Regions from separate parts of the Homo sapiens genome. Here regions 2 and 3 are each linked to region 1. The links come from fine-mapping of genetic effects on gene expression. A gene starts in region 1. Each other region holds a variant in brackets. All regions are shown on one strand. Distances are between the middles of the regions.

Region 1 (8,184 bases):
GCAGTCAACCCTGGCCCGAGTCGCGTGGCAACAGGAGTCACAGCAGGAGTTCCCTTGGAGACCAGCAAGCCCAGGGAACCCCCTTCCACAGCTAATTTGGGATGAGCTGAGCTGAGAATATTAGGAAACTGCCATTTCCTCATAACCTGTTGCAATTCCAGTATTCTGTGTGACCTAAAAACTGGGTTGGAAATCCTCCTTAACACAGATACAGAACCCAGAAGCTGTAGAGGACAATATCAACCGATTTGACCGCATAACAGGTAAAAAACAAAACTGAATGACAAGCAACAGACTGGAAAAAAATCTTCACAAACTGTAACATATTTTAATATATTCTATTATAATATAACAAAAAGGAATATCCAAAATACATAAGGAGCTCTTATAAATAATAAAAAGAGACAAAACTAATGGATAAAAGATATAAACAGGTAATTGCAGAAGAAATAGATAGACAAAATGCCTATCTTCAGTAGTAATTAAGGGAATACAAGTCAGAACAAGATGGCGTTTTTTGCCCATTTTATTGACAACAATTAAAAATATAATATTGAATACTGGGAAAGGTGAAGGGACATGGGCAGTTTCTTCTACTCACGCTGAGAATGTAAACGGGTAGCGTCTTTTTAAAGGCCAGGTTGAGGCCCGGCTCTGTGACTCACCCCTGTAATCCCAGCACTTTGGGAGGCTGAGGTGAGTGGATCGCTTGAGCTCAGGACTTAGAGAACAGCCTGGGCAACAAGGCAAAATCCTGTCTCTACAAAAAATACAAAAATTAGCCAGGCATGGTGTTGTGTGCTTGCAGTTCCAGCTACTCAGGAGGCTGAAGTGGGAGGACTGCTGGAGCCCTAGAGGTGGAGGTTGCAGTGAGCCAAGATCTCTCGTGCCACTGCACTCCAGCCTGAAGGACAGAATGTAAACCTGCCTCCAATAAATAAATAAATAACAGGTTGGCAGCATCTGTATTTACAGTATGCCTACCCTTTGTTATGACAATTCCACTTTTAGGAATCTATACTATTCAAATATGAGGATACGAGGATGTCAATGGATCATTTTAACAGTGAGAAAATATTAATAATATCTAGCATTGATTGAGGGCCAGCACATTTCTAAGCACTTTATAACAAATATTGTGAGGACCCCGAGACACAGAGGAGTTAGGTAACTTGCTCAGGGTCACATGGCAAGTGTGTGTTTGGGGCAGGATTTTGGCAATTGTTTCTTAACCACTATGCTCTCGAATAGAGAATAATTACAGTGTGGCACATCCAAACTGGGGAGTAGAGGACAGCAGGTAAGCGGAATGAAGCAGATCTCTGCCTATAGACATGGACACGCCTCTAGGACATATTAGTAATGAAGGGAAAAAACCAAGTTGCCAAACACCATGATATGGTATAATTTCATGTCTGTGGGGAAAAGGTAACATGTATCTATAATACATATGTATGAGAATGGCCAAAGGCCTTGAGTGATATAAGAATGTATGTGGAAATATAGTCAGAACAGTAAATTTTAGATTATGTTCCATATATTTCTGGTTCGTTTGAACTTTTACAAGAATGCATTTGTGCATTACTTTTGAAAACAAGAATTGTTGTACTAACCTCCTCCTTACCCTTACCCCATCCTGCAAAAAGGTTTAACTCATATCAACAGATTCATTTTCTCTTCTTCCAGGTAGACAATGGGATAGGTCTTGGGTAAAAATCTTCTGTACCATGGCTTTTTCTGGTCTATATAAATAAGTATATGTAGAACATGCCCAGGATATATATCTTGTTGATCACTACTCTTAAAATAAGGTTTTCATGTTCGGTATTTGGACCATGGCTTCCTGTTATTCCACCAAGCTACATACAAATATACAACCAGTCAAAATTAATTTGGAAACTGAGAACCACAGTGTTTTTTTTTTTTTTTTTTTGAGACAATCTCACTCTGTTGCCCAGGCTGGAGTGCAGCGGTGTGATCACAGCTCACTGCAGCCTTGGCCTCCTGGGCTCAATGGAGGAGGCCTCCAACTCAGCCTCAGGGGGAGCTGGGACTACAGGCACAGGCCACCACGCCCCGCTAGACAGAGTGCTCCTTTTGCCTTGCATATTATTTTGTCATCAGAAAAATAATCCATAATCATAGATTATCTCATTATTTTGCTCCAATGCATAAGTGGGAGTGTCTAGCTCCCTCTGTTCTCCTGGTGGCCTCTGTGGAGGTCTGAATGAGTAGCTCAATACACAGACTTAAAGGACTCTCTGGATGTGAAGTCAGTGTTACTATCTGAAAGGGAAAAGCTGCATTGGATGGATCATCGGGGCCTCTTCCTGCATGAGTCCAGCTAGGGGTGGTTTTAACTAACCTAAAACCAAAGAAGAGGCTCCAACTAATCCAATGGTTTGGATCAAAATGCAACTTTTACAGGGCTGGGGCTTCACCCTATCTTCGGGTTTATCTCTGACATGCCAGGGAGACAGTTCTTAACATTCTTATTACTTAATGGATATCAGATTGTTGCTTTTCGGAGTGGTTTTTCCATTTTTTGAAATTTAATTTGTTCTTAAGTATCTTTACAGAAAAAAATCCCATTTATTTAAGAAGTACTGTATTCTCTGGTTCTTATAGCTGCTCATTTTACATAGTTTTAGTGTGTACAAACGATTTTTTTTGTTTCATTTATTTCTAATATACCTTCTCATGTACTTGCCAAAATTTCATGTTTGACACAGTCTGCATACCTGCCAGGATTCTTGCTGTTAATGTGAAGGCGCCTGTTTGGGTTACTCAATTGTTGGACAACTGGGCCCATTCCCAGGTTTTGGTCATCACGAACATTGTGAATAGCCCTGCTGTTAACATCTTTCTGCAAGTTCTCCCCCTTCTTCGCCCTTTGGATCATTTCCTTGGAAATGTACTTCCTTAAATGGGTTTACTGGGTCAAAGGGGCTCTATGAACGGTTTTATAGCTCTTGGCACATAATTTTCGGATTGCGCCCTGGGCGGATCTAAGCGATGGCACCGGCCGCCGAGAGGGCAGGAATGCGGCGGAACGGTCCCGATAACCACCCCTCTTCCGCCCCCCAAAAGGAGAAGACCCCGCGAAGGCCTGCGGCTGGAAAGCCTTTTTCCGGTGCTCTCCCGTTCTCTTGAAGTGGTTAGTGTCTAAGCCGGGCAGAAACGCTTTCAGGATCCCAGGCCCTCCTGCCCCAGGACTAGGATTCCACCCGCCTCCGCTAATTCGGAATCCCAGACACCCAGGGCCCCCTCTCAGGCTCGCCTCGAAACCCCCGGCCCTGCGGCCCCTCGCGGGCGCCGAGCTCGGTCGCTATTATTTGGGCGCGGGTGAGGCGAGGCCCGCATAGCTGCGCGCTGAGTCAGCGGGGGCCGCGGCGGGGGGCGCGGCCGGGCTCCCCCCCAGCGCACGGTGCGCTGGGCCCGGCGTCTGGGGTTCCGCCTCGGGGCCGCGGGGTAGTCCGCGGGGTCCGGCGGGAGGGGCAGGGGGCGCGCGGAAGGACCCGGCCTGGGTGCGTCTCCCCTCCCCCAGCAGGAGCTCGGCCGTGACCGCGCGCCCGGCTATTCGCCTCAGAGAACCTCGCCAGGGGGAGGAGGCGAGGGCGGGCGAGGAAGGGGCGCAGAGGAGAAAGCGGAGCGGGACAGACGCAGGAAGGGAAAGAAAGGGAGGAAGCGCGGTGCGCGGGGCGGGGCGGGGCGGAGCGCGCGCAGGGCCGGCGGGGACGCGCGCCGGCGGCTGCGGGCGGAGGGGCTTGTGGGTAGCGGCGGCGCGCGGCCGGAGACGGGCGGCCGCGCGGGAGTGTGTGCGCCGGGAGCTGGCTGAGGGACTGCAAGGCGGCCGGCGGCGACCATGGCAGCGGGCCGGCGGCGGCCGTAGTGGCCCAGGCCTGGGCTTCAGCCTCCCGGGGCCCCAGAGGGCGGGGCGGTCCGGGCCGCGGCGGTGGCGGCGCCACTTCCCTGCTCCCGCCCGAGGACTCCTGCGGGCACTCGCTGAGGACCAGCGGACCGGCGGCGCGAATCTGACTGAGGGGCGGGGACGCCGTCTGTTCCCCGCCGCTCCCGGCAGGGCCGGGCCGGGCTGGGCCGGGCTGGGCCGGGCGGGCCCCTGGGAGCAGCCCCCAGGCGGGGGACCGCCTTGGAGACCCGAAGCCGGAGCTAGAGGCAGGCGGTGGGCCCGGGTGGAGTCCCGGCCGGAGCTGGTGGTTCGGGGGCGGTGCTAGGCCCCGAGGCTGCGGGACCTGAGCGCGAGGAGCCTGAGTGCGGGTCCAGCGGTGGCGGCATGAGCCGGCCCCCGCCGACGGGGAAAATGCCCGGCGCCCCCGAGACCGCGCCGGGGGACGGGGCAGGCGCGAGCCGCCAGAGGAAGCTGGAGGCGCTGATCCGAGACCCTCGCTCCCCCATCAACGTGGAGAGCTTGCTGGTAGGTGGCCGGGGCCTGGGAGCTTGCTCGTTGCAGCTCACACCTCAGATCCCCTCTCCGCCCAGCCCTCCGTGCCCGTCCGCCCGTGGGGAGGGGGAGGTCTTGCCCCACCCCGCCCTGCTTCCGGCAGCCGGGGCCGGAGACCAAACGATTCTGTCACCGAGTTCCAAGAGTAGTGACCCGCCTTTGATTCCTCCCTCTACCTCCTGCTGGAGCCAGTGTCATCCCCGGCTGCTCCTTTCTTGCAGCACTGGGAGGAAAACACCCCTCTTCTCCTTCCGCCTGCCCACTCTGGGGAGGTGGGTGGAGGACTGGCCATGCTTCATACACCAGGTTAGCTGATTTGAAAGTGTCATGCTACGTGGGGACTTGGTGCGAGCGAGGGAGAAAGAAACCTGATGCTGTCCCTGTTGCGAGTACTCACTGGGGTACATGACAAAGAGCCGCCCTCACTCTCTCCTTTTAGTCTGAAATCTTGGAACACACAGCTAAAGTTTTGCTGTTTTCACTTGCGTTTGAGCATTCCATACTTGCTATTTAGTGCATTTTAATTGCTGTAAATTTAATTCCCTGAGATTATTGCGCCAGAGCCAAAAAATCAGTCTGAATTGTGGAGTGGAATAAATCTGTCCTCTTCATTGCGTCTCTTTCCTATAACGACCTTTGAAATCCAGATTAATAGCACCGTAAAGGCTGCTAATTGGCTCTTGGTTAAGAAAGGAGCATGTTTTACAAAATAGAAATGCACCGTAGAATGCTGGCTTATTTCTTATTTTTGTTAGGATAGATGATTGTATTTCGCAATTTGAGTAGTGTGCAGTGTAGATGCATTTATGGGAAAAGGGGGTGTGGACTTTTACCCTGGGGAGGGGAAGAAAGGTGAAAACGATACTCTGTGTATTAAATTGACTCTGGAAGACTAGAACTAGGGTGGGAGGTCCTTAGATCCGTTAGACATTCTGTGCTGGAATGCAGATGTTTAGTTCTATTCCCTCCTGGAATAAACCTTACTGTATGATGAGAAAAACTGCCTCCTCCCTTTCCAGGGACGGACGGACTGGCTTTTGGTCAGAGGCGGTTGGTTATCCTTTGAGGTTTCAGGCATCGTTTGCAGAGTGACTCAGTCCTGTTTGGTCAAAATGCAGGAACTGACTTTAGCTATATAGTGTCTTTCTGCACAGTGTACAGAAAGTAATGAATGATGTGCTATATTGTGTCACATGTGTTTGATGTTTTACTGTTTTTCGGGTTAATGTGTTGTTCCTATGTTTTAATGGGAGCAGTCTTTGAAAGTCTTTAATCGGGAGTAAGATTGCTTGCATGGATGGCATAGCTTTTCCTAGGCTAAAGCGGAGACTCTGGGCTGCACTCCCAGCATTTTCACTTTGGTATTTTGCTAGCAAAACTTTGACCTAAGGCCAGAAAGTTTAGTTAAAAATAGTACAGCAAATCTCAAGTATTCATCAGGTTCATGCTAAATCCTAGATGGAAACGTTTTGCAATTCACTTTGATATCTTAGATCTTTAATGATATTAATCATAATTATTAGAGTTATTCTGAGCTTGAATGTAAGTAGCTTATACATGTAATATGATCATGCATTTTGTTTTATTGCTTTCCAAATTATTAAAATGGAGGCTATTTTTAAAAGTGAAACATCTCACATGTTCAGGACACAGTTCATTCATTTAGCAGTTATTACAGCCAAAACACACTTTTATTAAGGTGGCACATTACGGATCTGAGAATTGACATCAGGTGCTGATGACTTGACAGACTCTGTTATTGCTGTTTCTAGTTGGTTAAATATGCTTGAGGTGCAGTAAACCTTTCCAAGCCAAAATGCGTCCCTTATTCCTTTGGAGCAAGGTTCCTGGTGTTTCTGTTACAAATTGATAAACGAAATTTAAAAATTTTTTTATAATAAATTAATTTTAAATTACGCGTATTTTATTTATGAACTACTAGAATGGATTTTTTATTGTGGTAGCGTATACAGAATTTACCATTTTTAACCATTTTTAAGTGTACAGGTTAGTGGCAGGCATTAAATACATTCACATTGTTGTGCAGCCATCACCACTATCCGTCTCTGGAATCTTTTCATTTTTCCAAACTGAAACTGTAAATTAATGTTTAAAAGAATGTTATAAAAATTATATTTCCTGAAATACTGACGAAATAATGGCTGGTATCACTTTAAAGATCTGAAACCTTAGCATTTAGGTTGCATTTCACTATTGGTCATTGTTTTACTGCCTATGACATTTATTTTTTGGTTTTGCCATGGGAAATACATATTTTGTCTTTAACAGAAAATTTAAAGGAATATAATTTAAAGCAAACACAGCTGCGACACTACATTCAGGAGCTCAGAAAGTACCATTAAAAATAGTATATACCTAAGATGACAAAAGAAGATGAAGTACACCAGAAATGATTGTATGATGCTTTCAGTGGGCTAGGCCTAGAAGGTAAAACTCTGTAGGAAACAAAGTTTTATGAGATAACGTGTAAAGTGCTTAGCCTAGTGCTTGGTACATCACAGTGCTCATTAAATTTAGTTCACTTCTCCTGTGCACACTTAGCATGTTATTAGTTAACTGCTTTAAATTTTCTTTTCAAAGGAAAATGGTTTTATTTGCAACTATTTCTTGCTACATAATTTTGAGTGAGTAGCATTATCATTTGAATTTGTCATCAGAAAAGTGCTAGCAATCATTAGGCATAGGTAGAGCTGGATTCCAAGACTAAATCAGTGTAAAGATGACATCTTGTTTCTCTGCAAAGGCTCATGGCTTTATGTGGGTCCTTAAATTAATCTGAGAAGAGTATATCTCTTTTATGGTTGCAGATTGTGAGCCGCTTAGTATTACTTAGAGTTTTGCTTCTCTACTGCCTCTTTTTTTTTTTGGAGGCGAGTCTTCAGTAATATGCTTTTGTAGTGTTTGAAACCTTTGGGTAAATACCTATGCTTTGTTGTCAAGACCAGCTTCTCATACTGCTTACCTATTATGGTAAAAAGAACTGTGTTTCAGGCTTTGCTGAAGAGATATTTTTCTAAAGGTCTGTGCTTTTTGAGTGTTGATTTATTTTACTCTTTCAAAGAGTAAACAGTCACAATAACCTGTAGGACTCACGCTTGGGTAAACTCTTACTTAAGACTTGTGTGGATGGGCAAAGGTGATTAAAACTTTGTTTACAATTTTCAGTGGCATAAAACATAAAATAATTTGATTGATTTCATTATACTTGTAAACTATCTGACAATATTATCTCAGTGCTTAGACTCTTTCAGCATGCTGCTGGTTATTTGCCTAGTTAAAATAAAATTGTATGTGTATTTTTCCCATCATGTAATAAGTAAGAACATTATAAAGATACAATAAAAATGAAATAGAATAAAAATTAAAAATCATTTTATACATTTTTTTCTTTATGAAGAGTTTGGCATTTATAGTGTAAAATTTGTGACTAGTTTACTTTAAAACTTTCATGTTGATAGGAGATATTTAAAGAAAATGAGTTAGCTAGGGAGGTTTTAAAAAAAAGGTGATGTGTGGAACTTACTGTTGATGTGAAGCAAGTGCAGGTCCGCAATCCCTTATCCACAATTTTGATATATAAAAAACCCAGTTTTTGGTAAAATGTATTTGATGATAACATCTGACCTAATCTCACATTAGAATACTTGTGGTCTAGTCATTCCTCTTGATGTAAATAATAATGCCTTTTGCTGGAGGAATAT
Region 2 (8,184 bases), 120 kb after region 1:
GGGAGACCATTTCTTCCCTCTTTCAACTCTAGCTATATGTCATTTTAAGCTAGTCACAGTCTGTCTCTCTGGGCCTGACTTCCTCTTATGTAAAATAATAGAGCTGGTTTAACTCTTGCAGCAGCCCTGTCTGGCCTATCATGATGTAAATGATTTAAATCTGTGCTGTCCAGTGTGGTGACCATTGGTTACAACATGACTTAAAATGTGGCTAGTATAACTAGGGAATTGTGTTTTTCATTTTATTTAATTCATTTTAACTTTAAATTGCCACCTATAGCTAGTGGCAACTGTGTTGTATAACATATCTCTAGAGAATGATTTCAAAATGCTGATCCAGCCCAAGCATTAAAGGACCCTGACTGATCTGACCCCACATAGGAACTCTTTCTCTTGGACTATTCAGTAAAACATTTCCTCTCTTAAATTAAAAAAAAAAAAAACTCAACAAATTCGGGAGTTATCATTGATTTTATTTTGCTTTTAAGGGATGAGGGATCATTGGTGGTGTTAAATTTTAAATATATTCTTTGATTTAGAATATAACAATATGTCTGTTGTTTTGACTGGGACTCTGTGCCCGTAGAATATTTGTTCTTCCCTGCATGTGACAAATTTAAACTTAACATATTTAAGTACTAGGTGAAAAGTGTTTCCTTTGCATTCTCTGTTACATTCAGTATCTTCTTTCTTGAAATTTTAGGGGATACTCCATTTTATGCGGATTCACTTGTAGGAACATATAGCAAAATTATGGATCATAAGAATTCACTGTGTTTCCCTGAAGATGCAGAAATTTCCAAACATGCAAAGAATCTCATCTGTGCTTTCTTAACAGATAGGTAATGTACATTGAATTTCTTTGTAGAGAAGCCCTTTATGTTAAATTTATAGAAATAAAAGCATGCCTAGCTTATTAACATATGAAATCAGTCTGCCTCTCATTACCCAAGTAGCATCTAATTCTGGGTTAGCCTTTTCCTTCTGCTAAGCCTGGTGTTGGGCTACCTTGTTGTTATGTGTGTACAGCCCAGTTGTAATCGAACTCTAACCTTAACCCTCATGTCTAAAAAGGAAAAAATAGAACGTGGTAAAACAATGGATTTGAAAGAAATAAAACTTTCGTGTTGTTCACATTTTATCCTCCAAGCTGGTTATTCCATATTACTCTTATATAACTTTTGAGAGTATTTTGTGTAGATAAATACTCAACAGGTTATAATCTTAAAAACTATTTGTGTTAGACTTGGGAGTGCTTCCTTCCCAACCCTTTTTAATTTGCATTTGAATATGAGCAAGACTATCCTGGAAATTCCATACTTTTAAAAACAAAATAGATGAACAAAGGTGTGAAAACCTGCCCCCAAAAGATAAGCTAGAAAACTATTTGATTTCTCTTCTTTGTTCACCCCATTCCATTTTTTTCTAATGTCCCGTTTTATATTTGTGATAGGAGTCATCCTGTCAAAGGACCAACATATACAAGAGGATGCTCACACCCTCGTTCAAACTTACACATCAGCTTTATGATCTTGGGGAAATTATTTTTACTTTTTTGGGAAATAATTTTACTCATCCATAAAACAGTGGTCTCAAATTACAAAACTAAGGGCATTTCTAGCTTTAATATGCTAAGATTCCTTAGCACATCTTATTGCTTATTAATTTGTTACAAGCATTACTGCAGTGACTATCCTCACACATTCATCTCTGCATACTTTTTATAGGATAAAATCTTAAAGGTGGAATTCTGGGATACACATTTTAAACTTAAGTGATGTTACAAAATTGATCCCCAGAGAAGTTACAGCAGTATGTATTTCCATTAACAAAATTGTTTTCTTCTCGTCAAACTGAACATTGTAAAATGTTTTTTCTTTTTTTCATCAAAGAGGATAATTATTTTTATTTGTCAGTCATTTGTAGAATAAAACTTTAATACCTGTCAATTACATGGTTGACGAGCAGTTGGTGCTGATAAACTCAAAGTAAAATGGAAATGACGATTTATATATTAAGACCTGGAGATGAGGAGATGTTATCTTTGAAAAGAAGGAGAGACGCCTCTTTCTAAGAGGATAGGGTGGAAGAAGAACACAGCCTGTATGATGTTTGATGTGGGCACTGAGCAGGATTGGTAGGGATGGCCATAATTTGTGCTGGATGATAAATTGTACAACAGGGTACACCTGTTTTATGTTAATGAAAGGAGTGTTATTCATGAAAGTTTTGAATTAGTAGTCATGGGGCAGGGGTGTGCAATCTAAGGAATGATTATAGGTGGAAAACTGATATTTTGAAAACGAGTTAATGCCGTAAATATGGCTAGGAGCACTTCCCCTTAAGGTCTACAGTTTTCCTATTTATGTTAAACATAGCTCCAGGGCCTTGTATAACACAGATGCTCTCTATTTCCATACAGTCTTCATTGAAGACTCAGAGGGTCAAAGAATGAAATTCTTTGTAACATTTTTCATATATGCAGAATGATAAGTTTAATATACATGTAGAGATATACTTTACCAGAATAAATATGGATAGCTTCAAACATAATATATGCATTCTTTTTAGGAAAGGGAGAGATTTTTAAAATAATATTTCTATTAGGGAAGTTTTGAATAACTCTTCTCTGCCGAAAGTTAGACCTATGTCTGTTTATATCCTGAAGTTATTGTCATTCAGTCGTGGCACATGCAGGTGAATTTTTTTACTTGATAGTCTTAACGTACTTTCATTTGATGCAAACTATAGACAGAAACATTTTACTTTTCATGACATTTATTGTGCATTACAGTTTTTTAAATCTGTCTAAAGAGATCACATACTGTAACTTGGGATTGCTTATTTTTGAGAAACATTTAAGCTGAAGCTTTTAATACAAATATCTCAAATTTACTTGAGATCTTTATTTTGGTTAAACTGTTGACATAGAGTTAATCTTTTTATTTTATAATTTTTAAATAATACAATCTTTAACTGCATTGTTTAGGGAGGTACGACTTGGGAGAAATGGGGTGGAAGAAATCAGACAGCATCCTTTCTTTAAGAATGATCAGTGGCATTGGGATAACATAAGAGAAAGTAAGTCAATAAACCTAAATATTTTCATTCCATCACATTCTGAAACTCATAAGTTGATTCCTTTTTTGAAATAACAAGCATATTTGATAACACTTAATGCTAACTCATTTTTAAATTGAGAAATTTCATTTCAAATTTGTTCTGTGGCAATATTTATAACAATATTCCTCAATATCTTTGCAAACTATTAGCAATATTTCTCAACACTTTTACAATAAACATTACACATTTCTTAATTTGCCAAGTTAAGCTTTGTAGATCTCAATAATTTTCAGAATCAAGGGA[A/G]TGCAATCCTTTAATTTAAATGCGTTTGACTTGATAAATCAACAATTATTTATGGAGACCATACTCTGCTAAATATTGCTGTAAGCATAGTAACTTATTTTTACTATGTATATATGACATTGATTCATTTTAAGGGTAAGAAATATTTCTGTTTCGAGATTGTAGAAAATGGAGGTCTCTAAATTCTGTGCAAATTATTGCTGCTTGTAATTTTTAACAACTAGAATAATATGTTGCTTTCCTTGTTTAATCTATATTTAAAAGTGATCTAATATAGCAATAAATTACAAAATTTTAATTCTGTGAATCGATAAAATGGCAAATGCGCTGCTACAAATTTATATAGTGTTATTAAATAATAAATAATACATCATAATAAAATAGGATGGTTTATATATTTTGGTTGTGAATGAAATAATTTATTTCTTTTCTTTTAATAGCGGCAGCTCCTGTAGTACCTGAACTCAGCAGTGACATAGACAGCAGCAATTTCGATGACATTGAAGATGACAAAGGAGATGTAGAAACCTTCCCAATTCCTAAAGCTTTTGTTGGAAATCAGCTGCCTTTCATCGGATTTACCTACTATAGAGAAAATTTGTATGTGGTTTATTATTTGTTAAATTTTACTGTTTTTAGAATCTAGCTATAAGATGATGTGTTATTTTGAGACTCAATTATAGGAGATAAAGTATTAATTTGTTTTTTCCAAAAGGACTATCATCAGAAGAATTCTTAATTTTATTTTATTATTTCTGAATGTTATATGTTATTCATTTATAAGTTATTGCAAGACACCATTCTACATTCTTTTGGGGATATACAGTAAAAACAAATACCTATTTTTGAAGAAGCTTGTCATCTCGTGAAGGATATAAGAGAATTATATAGTCATAAAGAAGGGTAAAATGTGACAGTTGCCTTAAGAAAGATGCTGAGAGAATCTGGGATGGTTCAGAAGAAAAATAGAAGTCATCTCTTTGGGGTGGGAGTAGGGAGAAATAGGTCAGACCTCTGGGAAGAGGTGGCATTTTAGCCAAGTCTAACAAGAAAAGGTTTTGAGTGGCTGAAATGTGGGGAGGTTAGGGGACAGTTGTGAGGTGTTGAATAGTGGAAGCAAATGTTTGGAATGTGAGCATACATTGGGAGCAGAGCACTCGCATTGAGTCCAGTAGCACTCAAACATAGAGCAGGTGCTACTATGTCATTACAGTTTGGAGGACTCGATGAGACTATGTGGTTTTCTTGCCTGTAGTCTCTGCATCTAGCAGAAAGTCTGACACAAGATCATTCAATAAATATTGGTTAACTGAAGTGAGTATTGGATGTAAGATTAGAAAATATGTTGAGGCCAGGTGTGGTGATTCACACATGTAATCCTAGCACTTTGGGAGGCTGAGATGGGAGGATAGCTTGAGCCCAGGAGTTCTAGACCAGCCTAGGCAACAAAGTGGAACCCTGTCTTTACAAAAGAAAAAAAAAGCCGGGTACGGTGGCTCATGCCTGTAATCCCAGCACTTTGGAGGCTGAGGTGGGCAGATCACCTGAGGTCGGGAGTTCAAGACCAGCCTGACCGACATAGAGAAACCCCGTCTCTACTAAAAAATACAAAATTAGCTGGGCATGGTGGCACATGCCTGTAATCCCAGCTACTCTGGAGGTTGAGGCAGGAGAATCGCTTGAACCCAGGAGGTGGAGATTGTGGTTGAAACGAGATCGTGCCATTGCACGCCAGCCTGGGCAACAAGAGCGAAACTCCATCTCAACAACAACAACAACAACAAAAAAGCCAGATGTGGTGGTTTGCGCCTGTAATCCCAGGTACTCAGAGGCTGAGATGAAAGGATCACTTGAGGCCAGGAGTTCAAGGTTGGAATGAGCTGTTCCAGCCTGGGCGACAGAATGAGACCATGTCTTAAAAAAAAAAAAAAAAAAAGTGAGTTTTGGGGAAGAATAATCAACAGATGATTGTTGTGTGCTCTGCTAAGGGGCTTTTGACCGCCTGGCATTGGGAAGCCACTGAAAGCTGTTCAATAGTTGAATGAGGCATTAAAGATATTTGAGAAGCCCAGGAGTTCGAGGCTGCAGGGAGCTATGATTGTACCGCTATACTCCAGCCTGGGTGACAGATTAAAAAAAGAAAGAAAAATGAGATAATAAGATGAAGAGGTGGGAAGTATAGTTTCATTTAGTGAGTCTGGTGCAAACAAAATTAAAGACTAGTTATCCCGTAAGAGGGAAAGGCAAGAAAAGTTTAGCATTTGATTGATTGATTGATGGATGGATTGAGATGGAGTCTCACTTCGTCGCCCAGGCTAGAGTGCAGTGGTGCGATCTCAGCTCACTGCAACCTCCACCTCCCGGGTTCCAGCAATTCTCATGCCTCAGCCTCCCGAGTAGCTGGTACTACAGGTGTCCACCACCATGCCCGGCTAATTTTTTTTTTTTTTTTTTTTTTTTTGTAGAGATAAGGTTTCACCATGTTGATCACACTGGTCTCGAACTCCTGACCTCAGGTGATCTTTCCCGCCTTGACCTCCCAAAGTGCTGGGATTATAGGTGTGAACCACCACGCCTGGCCCTAGCATTTTAAATTATTGAAAATGATACAAATGTCTTGAGGGAAAAATATTGCTTCATTTGTAAATAATGTGTTGAAGGGAAAAGAGAGAAATCTGTGTTTGATATTTAAGTCTGAGAATAACTTGAATAAAACAGCACATAGATTAAAATGAAATGAAAAAATTTATTTTCTCCCCCCTTCCATGTAGATTATTAAGTGACTCTCCATCTTGTAGAGAAACTGATTCCATACAATCAAGGAAAAATGAAGTACGTATACATTTTTACTGCTGTAGTTATTTTAGTTTCATGTTTAAATATTTTAGTAATCCCCATGTTTTTAAAAAGCTAATTTGATGCTCCTTTTAAAATCATGAGATGGCATTCCTTGTGTAATACAGTTTAACATAGCATTGCAATGATTGATTTATGTGAATAGTATCATTATTCAAGACATGATGGCTAGTACAAAGAGGACTTCTACATGGCTTTAGGCTTAATTGAGTGCCAAAAGTGATAGAATAAGTTTGTAAACAACTATAATAACATTTAGAAAATTGACTTCTATAATTTGTAAATGAATGCAAAGCTAAATCATACATGGATATACACATACACATAAATGATGATGCTAAACATTTTTTCTTCAAACTTATGAAAGCTAAAGCATTAGGTTGGATAATTTTGTTATGGTTTGTGTTTTAGGAATTTTACAGAATATAACCATCATTTTAGTATTTTAATGTGTTTTCTGTTTTGTTTTAAATAGGAAAGTCAAGAGGTATGTTGATGTTGTCAGATATATTGAAAAACTGAGAAAAGCTCATCACTCTCGCAAAGTTTAAATATAGTCATATCCTACCTAGCATTTGGAGTACTACATCTACCCAAGAGAGAAGTTCCCAACCTTTCTTCTACCAAGTATCTCTTTTATTATTGTTCTGTGGATCTGTTTAAAATATATATTATGTAATTTTGTTTTTATTTATCAAGGACATATAACTGGCAGCAAAAATTTCTGATTAGCATATAATAACTGGTGTGCTCAAATTATTGTAATGCAGTAGTAGCCAAAAGCAATTAAACTTGACTAGTTCATTAGCCTGTATATTTTTATTAAGGGAAAACAGAGTTTTGCTTAAGATAGATGCAGTATTTAAAACCATGGAGAACCTGATCACTAGAAGGAATAATGGAAAGTACATTGCCATGGGAGTCTAATAGACCTGCATTGATTTTTGCCACTGCGACTTATTAGCTATGCCATCTTGGCCTGATTATTTACCTTTTTTGAATTTCATTTTCTGTATCAAGTAGATACAATGCTACCATCTTTGTAGGATTTTTGTTAATATTAACAAGACAACATTTGTAAAGTGCCTGATATTTTACCAAAGGCACCACAGGAGCTCAAAAAGTTAAATCCTTTAAAAAGTAAATAATGTTCCAAAAATGGATTATTTAATAGTTTCGGTAATTTTTGCTTGTTTAAAGACTTACATAGCTAGGGAAAGCTGCTGAGGAGCTGGCTTGTAATTAATTAGCTATCATTTATTCGAAAGTTATTGATTACTCCTCGGTAATATGACCAGCACTACATAGGAAGATATAAAAGAAGAGCTTATATTCTTTACTTTGAGCATATTCAGTTGAGTACTCTGAATATTTGTTTTAGATGTATTCATTTTTATCCGACTAGCACAAATAATGACAATATTTTCAAGCAAATAATTCATAGAAAAGCAGCAGAAGATATCTGAGGTGGTATTCTTTATAATGAATTTGAAACTTTGTGTCATAGAACAATTCTGCCAAAGTTAGAGCTTCTTATGCATGGTTACATAAGTATGTTTCATATATACATGTGTACTCTGATAGAAAGCAAGAGATGGGGGAGTTTTTCCTTTTATCAATATAAGTCACATTAAGGAGGTACAAATACTGTACCATTATAGAGGACATTATGTTTAGTGGAAAGACAAAATAAGCTTATCATTGTTTTCTTTAAGCCTCTCATCTTTAAATATGACCAAAATACGTAATTACAGTTTCTTGTTTTTTGACAGATTCAGAAAAAACTGTATACATTAGAAGAACATCTTAGCAATGAGATGCAAGCCAAAGAGGAACTGGAACAGAAGTGCAAGTATGTTTTGTAGATAATTAAATATTACATTATAAAATTTAAGTTTAAACATTTACTGAAAAAAGAGCGGCCAGGTGTGGTGGCTCACACCTGTAATCCCAGCACTTTGG
Region 3 (8,184 bases), 53 kb before region 1:
TTTTGGGTTTTTTTTTTTTTTTTTTTTTTTTGAGACAGAGTCTCACTCTGTTTCCCAGGCTGGAGTGGAGTGGCACAATCTCGGCTCACTGCAAGCTCTGCCTCCCGGGTTCATGCCATTCTCCTGCCTCAGCCTCCTGAGTAGCTGGGACTACAGGCACCCACCACCACGCCCGGCTAATTTTTTGTATTTTTAGTAGAGACAGGGTTTCACCGTGTTAGCTAGGATGGTCTCGATCTCCTGACCTCGTGATCCGCCCGCCTGGGCCTCCCAAAGTACTGGGATTACAGGCGTGAGCCACCGTGCCCGGCGCAGCATGTTTTTAAAAAATATGCAAAAATCAAGATATAATATTTTAACAATTCCTGAAGCCCACATCTCCCACTCAGACTTCGTTTCCACCACACATCTGCTTGTATTGGGTGGTGATGCGGCTCTTTGGGGCTTTAGCCGAAGGGAAGTCGAACTGGGTCTACACAGTAACATCCTCAGCCTGGACTAGGGCAGTGCACACCCTCTACTTTCAGAAGCTCCTCTCTTGTCCTTCTCTAGCTGCATTTCTACCCTAAGGGCAAGGAGTCTACAGGGCCAAAGGGAGCTTCACCCTCTTCCAGGCTACTCCTCAGGTGCGGCAGCCATGGGAATCTGCCTCTCAGAGCTTCCTTGAAGAAGAGCATGAGGGACTGGGTGCAGTGTCTCACGCCTGTAATCCCAGCACTCTGGGAGGCTGAGGTGGGCAGATCATAAGGTCAAGAGATCGAGACCAGCCTGGCCAACATGGTGAAACCCCATCTCTACTAAAAATACAAAAATTACCTGGGCCTGGTGGTGCACACCTGCAGTCCCAGCTACTTGGGAGGCTGAGGCAGGAGAATCACTTGAAGCCGGGAGGCAGAGGTTGCAGTGAGTCGAGATTGCGCCACTGCACTCCAGCCTGGCAACAGAGAGAGACTCTGTCTCAAAAAAAAAAAAAAAAAAAAAAAAAAAAACCACAGGAAAAAAAAAAAGAAGAGCATGCTGTCAGCAGCAAGGGCTGCAGTTAGCTGAGACCTCCAGCTAGAACAGCATCAGGATCTGCCACACTGTCTGAGTCAAGGCCACACTTCCACCAGGCAGCCTTCAGCTAAAGAGGGACCACAGCAGGAATCCTAGTGGCTGGCCAGCTCTGCCAGTGGGAGAGCCTTCTCATGGGCAGTCTTTCACTATAGCTCCCTATTGGGTTGGACCAGGTTTCATCAGATGGCATCTCACTCTGAGCCTCTACCTGCTTACTCTGCTCCTTCTCTAGTTCCTTTCACAGGTTCAGATTGGCATTGGGATATGAAGTCTTTTTCTGCCCAATCCTGCTTCATCCTCCTATCACGTTAACAAGGCTTACCTCTTACTCAGTCTCCAGCACTCCTAACTGACTCCATTTCTTCTACCCAGAGGACCTGACCTGACACCATCGATGCTGGAAGTGGCCTGAGAAAACAATAAAGAGAGGGCGTGGCACCTTGATCAGCTAGCATGAGGGCTCCATCCCAGGTGGTCTGGGAGGCACAGAGGGGTGCCTAGGATGACACAGCAACCCAATTGCTATGCTTTCAGTGATGCTGACTTGGGAAATTGCTCTGATGGGAAGACCCAGGTGGCGGATGCCCCTGATGACTTTGGTTCCCAAGACCCCTCTGAGCCCTCAGTGCTGGCAGGGATTGCCACTTCTCTCAAGAGTCAGCCCTTTCCCCACCCTGTAGAGGTCTCTCCCCTACACGATAGCAGGGCCCCCCTCAGGATCTGCCCCCATCTCCTTTCCTGGCTGCAAAGCCAATAAGTAGGATTAAATGGCAGCATAACCCAGCTGGGGACAGGCTAGGCTTGATAAGGGAGGAAAGCAAGAGCCCCCAAAGGTGCTGCAAGAGTGGACTGCCATAGACCAGTGGGCGCTAAGGGGGGTCCAGGCAGGGAGGGTGTTGATCAGGGTGGGGCTTAAGACCAGGTTTATTAGTTCATTCTCATACTTCTATAAAGAACTACCTGAGACTGGGTAATTTATAAAGAAAAGAGGTTTAATTGGCTCACGGTTCTGCAGGCTGAACAGGAAGCATAGCAGCTTCTTCTCAGCTTCTGGGGAGGCTCCAGAAAACTTACAATCTTGTGGTGGAGGAAGGGGACACGGGCACGTCTTACATGCCAGAGCAGGAGGAAGAGAGAGAGAGGGGGAGGAGGTGCTACACACTTTTAGACAACCAGATCTTGTGAGAACTCTATCATGAGAGCCGCACTGGGGAGACGGTGCTAACGCATTCATGAGAACCTGCCCCCATGATCCAATCGCCTCCCACCAGGCTCCTCCGCCAACATTGAGGATTACAGTTTGACATGAGATGTGGATGGAGACACAGATCCATACAGATCCAAACGGTATCATTCCACCCCGGCCGCTCCCAAATCTCATGTCCTTCTCACATTGCAAAATCCAATCATGCCTTCTCAACTGTTCCTTCCCCAAAGTCTTAACTCATTCCAGCATTAGCTCAAAAGTCCACAGTCCAAAGTCTCATCTGAGACAAGGCTAGTTAGTCCCTTCCACCTATGAACCTGTAAAATCAAAAACAATTAGTTACTTCCAACGTACCATGGGGGTACAGGCATTGGGTAAATACTCCCGTTCCAAAAGGGAGAAACCGGCCGAAAGAAAGGCTGCAGGCTCCACTCAAGTCTGAAACCCAGCAGGGTGCCATTACGTCTTAAAGCTCCAAAATAATCTCCTTGATTCCACGTCTCACATCCAGGGCACAGTGATGCAAGAGGTGGGCTCCCAAAGCCTTGGGCAGCTCTGCCTCTGGGGCTCTGCAGGGCTCAACCCCTGCGGCTGCTTATAGGCTGGCGTGGTGCCCTGAAGCAGGAGAGGCACATGGTAAGTGCTTAATCGCCGGGAGCCAGAAGGTCACACCCATTGTAACAACTGGCAAGGCTGGAGTGGCAGCCAACAGGGCTTGACTTCCAGAGTGAAGGAGATGTTGACAGAATACAGCAATGCTAGTGAGGGGCGGCCCATACGTGGACTGCTGTGTGTGTGTGTGTGTGTGTGTGTGTATTTACGTGTGTATATATAAACTGGACTGGAGTTAGCTTTTTGAAAAATATGACTTTTTAGTTTACTCAATGTCATTTTATTTATTTGTTTTTTTTGAGACGGGCTCTCACTACATTGCCCAGGTTGGTTTCGATCTCCTGGGCTCAAACGAGTCTCCCAACTCAGCCTGCCGAGTAGCTGGGATTACAGGCATGAGACACAGCCCCTGACTGGAGTCGGTTTCCAGAACGGAGAACTATTGACTGAAGAGGTGGCTGGGTACCCAGGAGAAAGAATCCTGTGACATGACAGTTTTTAAAGTAGAGATTTCAGATAAACAACAGGACCTATGACCATTTACTAGAGTGACTTTTTGCTGGGGAAAGAGGGTTGCTCAGCTATTTGAAGGACTATCTGAAGATCTGAATTGACATTGACATCCAGAGATCCGAAGACTCCTCCTAGCCCATCTCTTAGAGTAGGGCCGTGCAAAAAGCCAGGGAAGAAAGCGAGTGCTGGCTGAAGTCCAGCTGAGAGTGGGTCCACTGGCTCCGTGGATCCATCCTAAGGTCATTTTCTCAGTCCCTGAACGTATAATTGGCATTGGAAAAACTCGCACATTGGGTTTTTGGCCTGTAGAGTAAAAGCTGTCATACTGGGGAAAGCCAAGTGAAAACTCTTGATACTACTCCCACCCTGAACCTCAGCCAAGAGAGGAAAATACAAACAATATCGCATCCTGGGGGCTGCTAGAGATTAATGCCACCCTTATGGAACTCAAGGAGGCATGGCTGGAGGTCTCCCCCGTATTTCTATTTAGTTGACCAAACTGGCCCCTGCAGGAACCAGAGGGAACCCGGAGAACTGTGGACCACCACAAACCCAAATAGTAATAGCCCCAGTTACCACGACCAATGTAGTATCTTTGCCAGAGCAGATTACTACGGCCATTGATTTAATGAGTGCATTCTTTTTTATCCTGATCAGAAAAGAGAATCAGAAATATTCTGCATTCACATGGAACAGACAACACATATTTACAGTTTTGCCCCAGGGCTCTTTGACTCACTCACTTGCTTTCTGTCTTAACATAGTCTAGAGAGATCTGGATTGTTTGGGCATCCCACAGAGCATCATATTGATCCATGAAATTGATGACATCTTTCTAATTTGGCAGGATGAGAAAGAAGTAGCTGGCCTGTAGAGGACTTGGTAAAGTACATGTGCTCTTGAGGGTGGGGAAGAAACTCTATGAAGATTCAGAGACTGGCATATCAATAAAGTTTTTAGGGATGAAGTGATCAGGGGCATGCCAGGGCATCCTCTCCAAAGTAAAAGACAAATTGCTGCATTTTATAACCCCTATTGCAAAGAAGGAGGCACGATGCCTGATACGCCTCTTGGGTTCTAGAGGCAATACACTCCACACTTAACGAAGGCTATTCCAGACC[A/G]TCTGGTAAGTGACATGGAAGGCTGCCAGCTCTGAGTGGCCAAGAGCAGAGTGGGGCCTGCAGCAGGTTCAGGCTGTGGTGCAGGCAGCCCTGCCGCTTGGGCCATTTGATCCAGCAGTCCCTGCGGTGCTGGAGGTGTCAATGGTGGAGGAGGATGCAGTGTAGAGCTAATGACAAGCCGCCATGGGAGCATCACAACACAGGCTCCTGGGGGCCCGGAGCAAGGCCATGCCATCTGCAGCAGAGAATACATGCTTTTCGAAAAGCAGCTCTCGGTGTGTTATTGAGCCCTGATGGGAATGGGAGAGTTGCCCAGGGGATCTAAGTGAATGCATCTAGAAATACCCAGCATGATCTGGGCTCTCACAGAGTGATGGAAAAGGTTCACCTGGGATGAAGCCTGAGCTGGGGGTGAGGGAGCACAAGGAAGTTGTATGAGCAGGTGTCCCAGACCCCATGTCATCTGCCACAGCTGCACCATCACCCCTCCCTCAGCACACCCCCATGGCCATCCCGTCGGTGGGAGTGGGCGGGGGTGCCTTCTATACCCGGCTGAGAGTGGAGAAAGGGCCTGAATTTAATTTGCAGATGGTTTGGCTGGGTGCTGTGTGCGGAAACAAGCAGAAACTGGAGAGCAGCTGCCTTACAGCGACACTCAGGGACAGAGTGCTAAAGACAGTGGCCAGGGGAAACCCTTCTGATCAGGGGGATTCCAGCATTGTCCCTGGTCATGCACTTTGTGTGGAAGGAATCTTTGCCAAAGGTGAAAAAAATCTGAACTCATGGCAGTGGCAAGAGTTCACCTTATCACCTGACTTGGCAGACTGGTCAGGGGCCAGCCTAGAAGAATGAATGATCAGAGACCAGGAGGTCTGGGGGAGAGGCAGTTCATGGATATATGGAAATTGACATAAAGAATGGTGATCTTTGCATTATATATCAACTACCTGAAAGCGTTAGTCACGAAAGGGGCACGAAATAGCCAAGTAGGCAAAATAGCTCAGCCACGGATGTCAGCTAGCATATGCCATGAGCTATGAACTGGCAGAAGCAGAGATGACATATGGGCCCAGCAGCATGAACTCCCACTTACTAAAGCCAATCTGGCTATTGTGCACCGTGGCAGTCAGGGAGGAGTGTGGCTCAGATCTCCCTTCCAGAAGGAACTTGCTGGTCAGCGGCAAGGAGAGTAGTTAGCTGGCAGCATCCAGCTGAAGCCCCTTCACAATTCACTACAGCCCCTCCTGGGCGGCCCGGCCAGCAGTGAGCATGCTGGGAGCTTTCTATGCCCAAAGCAGGACCCCTCTGATGGGCAGTCTGCACCAGAACTGCCCATCGGGTTGACCACATTGTAAATGATCTCCAGGACAGTGTGGGGCTCTCCCTGCCCATTTTTGCCCTCGACACATTTCAGATCAGCATTGTGATCTGAAGCCTTCCCCAACCAACCCTCCTCTGTCACTTTTTATCTTTCAAAAATGTCTCTCCTCAGGAACCCTCTTGCATCCCCAATTCCATTCCTGGATCTGCTTATCAGAAGACCTGGATTGATACTCCAGGCCCAGAGACCCTTGCCAACATCAGTCATGCTACCAGGGCCCGTCAGGACCGCTGCCCACGTCCTCCCAAAGGCCGGCTCACACTGGTGTGCAACCCCAGGCCTGAGGGGCTGCCAAAATGCTGTGTACACGGGAATGGTCGATCTTAGCCATGAGCCTGGGCTATCCACACACGTGCCACAGCCCTCAGGCTGCAAAGTGCTTCCTCCTGGAGAAGGAGAACCGGCAGCCAGCCAGGGGGCAGGGCCAGCTTTCCCCACACAACACATTCCCGATGGAACCCAGGATTCTGAGAATTCTAAATTTGAATCTGGCCTTTCAAATTGTCAGGGTAGAAGGATGGGACACAGTGTATTTAACGGTTTGTTAGCGTGATTGATGACTTTCAGGAATTTATTTTAAACATATGAAAAGGGGACCTCCTTTCTAGTCTCGTCCTGGGCTATGCATTTGTTAGGAGTAGGCCTGGCCTGGAGATTCATTTATTTGGGTAAATGGGATATACTGATGCATTTCAAAATCACTTTCATCAGCTTGTTGCTAGCCATCCTGGTGGAAGAGTGGTTTCTAGAAATCCTCCTGAGGCCTGTGGTGCCCACTCACCAGGCATCATGACAGAAAGTGCAGTGCTCAAAGTCACACTGAAACAAATGCATTCTGGCTGTAAAAGGATGGGTTTGTGGGGATGAAGCAAGGCAGGGCAAGGTTGAAGGAAATGCTTCCAATCATGAATATGTAATGGCAATTGCAAGCAGAGAATTTGCTTGTCATTGATACCTAGTTGAAGCCATCAATAATAAAAAACAAATTTTGACCAACTGTGCTAAGGAAAAGACTGAATTAACTTTATAATCTCTTTATAGAAACAGAAAATACTACCACAAAACCATTGCCATAGGAAGAAGCTACTAAAATGCATGCAGCCAAAAAATGTAGGAAAAAGGTATTAGAAGCATAGAAGACAATTAATAAAATGTAGTACATTATTTTTCTAGATTTTGTGATATTTGTAGTATTTGTTCAGTTTTTCTTTTTTCTTTTTTCTTGAGACAGGATCTCACTCTGTTACTCAGGCTGGAGCACAGTGGCGTGATCACAGCTCACTGCAGCCTCAACCTCTCAAGCTCAGGTGATCCTCGCACCTCAGCCTCCTGAGTAGCTGGGACTACAGGCGTGTGCTACCACGCCTGGCTAATTTTTGCATTTTTTATAGAGGTGGAGTTTCACCACGTTGCCCAGGCTGGTCTGGAATTCCTGGACTCAAGTGATCTGCCCGTCTCCACCTCCTGAAGTGTTGGGATTATAGGCATGAGCCACTGTGCCTGGCCCAGTTTTTCTTTTTAATTGTAATTTGTTGTGATTTTTTTCTCCTAAGTAAATATCCCCTTTTATATTTGATGTGTTTGTAAATTTGTATTCTTCTTTCTTAAAAAGGACCCTCCACACTGAATAAGCTTCAGGCCCCACAACACCCAGATCCACTCCTGAATGAATATTATTATTACTAGTCAAAGTATTATTTTATCACATCCATGAGGGAGATAGAATTGCCTCTGTTTTACAGAAAAGTAAAGGCCAGGAGATGAAGTTGCTTACTCATTCTGACTCTGAATGCTTTTCCCGCTAGATTCTGGAATCTTCAGGCTTCTTGGCGCTCAGCCTGTTCGTTGATCCCCCTGCTGCTTCTACCACCCAGATCCCAGCAGGGAAAGCCAGAGGGAGACTAAATAGGAAGAAGAAGCCTCTCTGAATAAGCTGAGAAGGTTCCATAACGTCCCACTCTTCCGCAGCCCGTGGTCAGGGAGCTGGGGTGGGGGTGGGAGTGGCCGCACAGAAACCAAAAACCAACTGGCCCAAACAACCAGCTTTTGCAGGAAGGCAGAACAGGCAGTTAGGGGCTCCGGATCCCAGGCCAGGACCCTCGGACCTCAGTTAACGGCTAGTGTAGCTGAAGCCTGACGTCACCAACAGAGACAAGGAGGAGAGTAGGGAAGGATTACATATCTGTGGTTCTGATTTCCTGAAATAGTCCAGCCCTGCATGAAAGGTCTCTGTGCAGAGTCGGAGTCTAATCCAAGTTCAGGATGGCCACTAAGGGCACCTGATTTATCACTTA

Alleles and levels. Positions count from the first base shown, and alleles are read on the strand shown. Sizes are in standard deviations (SD) of each study's normalised expression. Not every link is listed here.
As copies of A replace G in region 3, the expression in cerebellum of the gene that starts at base 3,795 in region 1 goes up (moderate effect, 0.49 SD a copy in GTEx).

What was found. PIP is the estimated chance that this variant, and not a neighbour inherited with it, causes the effect.
Region 2: its variant is fine-mapped to the expression of ROCK2 in whole blood (TOPMed, PIP above 0.99).
Region 3: its variant is fine-mapped to the expression of ROCK2 in cerebellum (GTEx, PIP above 0.99). The same link has a PIP of 0.9 or more in cerebellar hemisphere.

Annotation. Positions count from the first base shown.
Region 1 is chr2:11,340,247-11,348,430 of GRCh38, reverse strand. ROCK2 (Rho associated coiled-coil containing protein kinase 2) reads left to right here and starts at 3,795. Exons shown (of 33, transcript NM_004850.5): 1 at 3,795-4,435. The coding sequence starts at 4,295. It overlaps LOC124907733 (a long non-coding RNA gene), which reads right to left and starts at 2,919. Exons shown (of 2, transcript XR_007086216.1): 1 at 2,742-2,919. RefSeq lists silencers at 3,311-3,470, 3,541-3,610, 3,751-4,480.
Region 2 is chr2:11,216,980-11,225,163 of GRCh38, reverse strand. It overlaps ROCK2 (Rho associated coiled-coil containing protein kinase 2), which reads left to right. Exons shown (of 33, transcript NM_004850.5): 7 at 704-842; 8 at 2,990-3,081; 9 at 3,807-3,966; 10 at 6,138-6,198; 11 at 6,698-6,709; 12 at 7,995-8,074. Among named protein-coding and RNA genes, the nearest start is that of SLC66A3, 66 kb to the right of the region's middle. The variant A/G (reference allele first, on the strand shown) is at 3,367.
Region 3 is chr2:11,393,652-11,401,835 of GRCh38, reverse strand. It overlaps LINC00570 (long intergenic non-protein coding RNA 570), which reads right to left and starts at 7,855. Exons shown (of 3, transcript NR_047499.1): 1 at 7,665-7,855; 2 at 1,379-1,464. The variant A/G (reference allele first, on the strand shown) is at 4,510.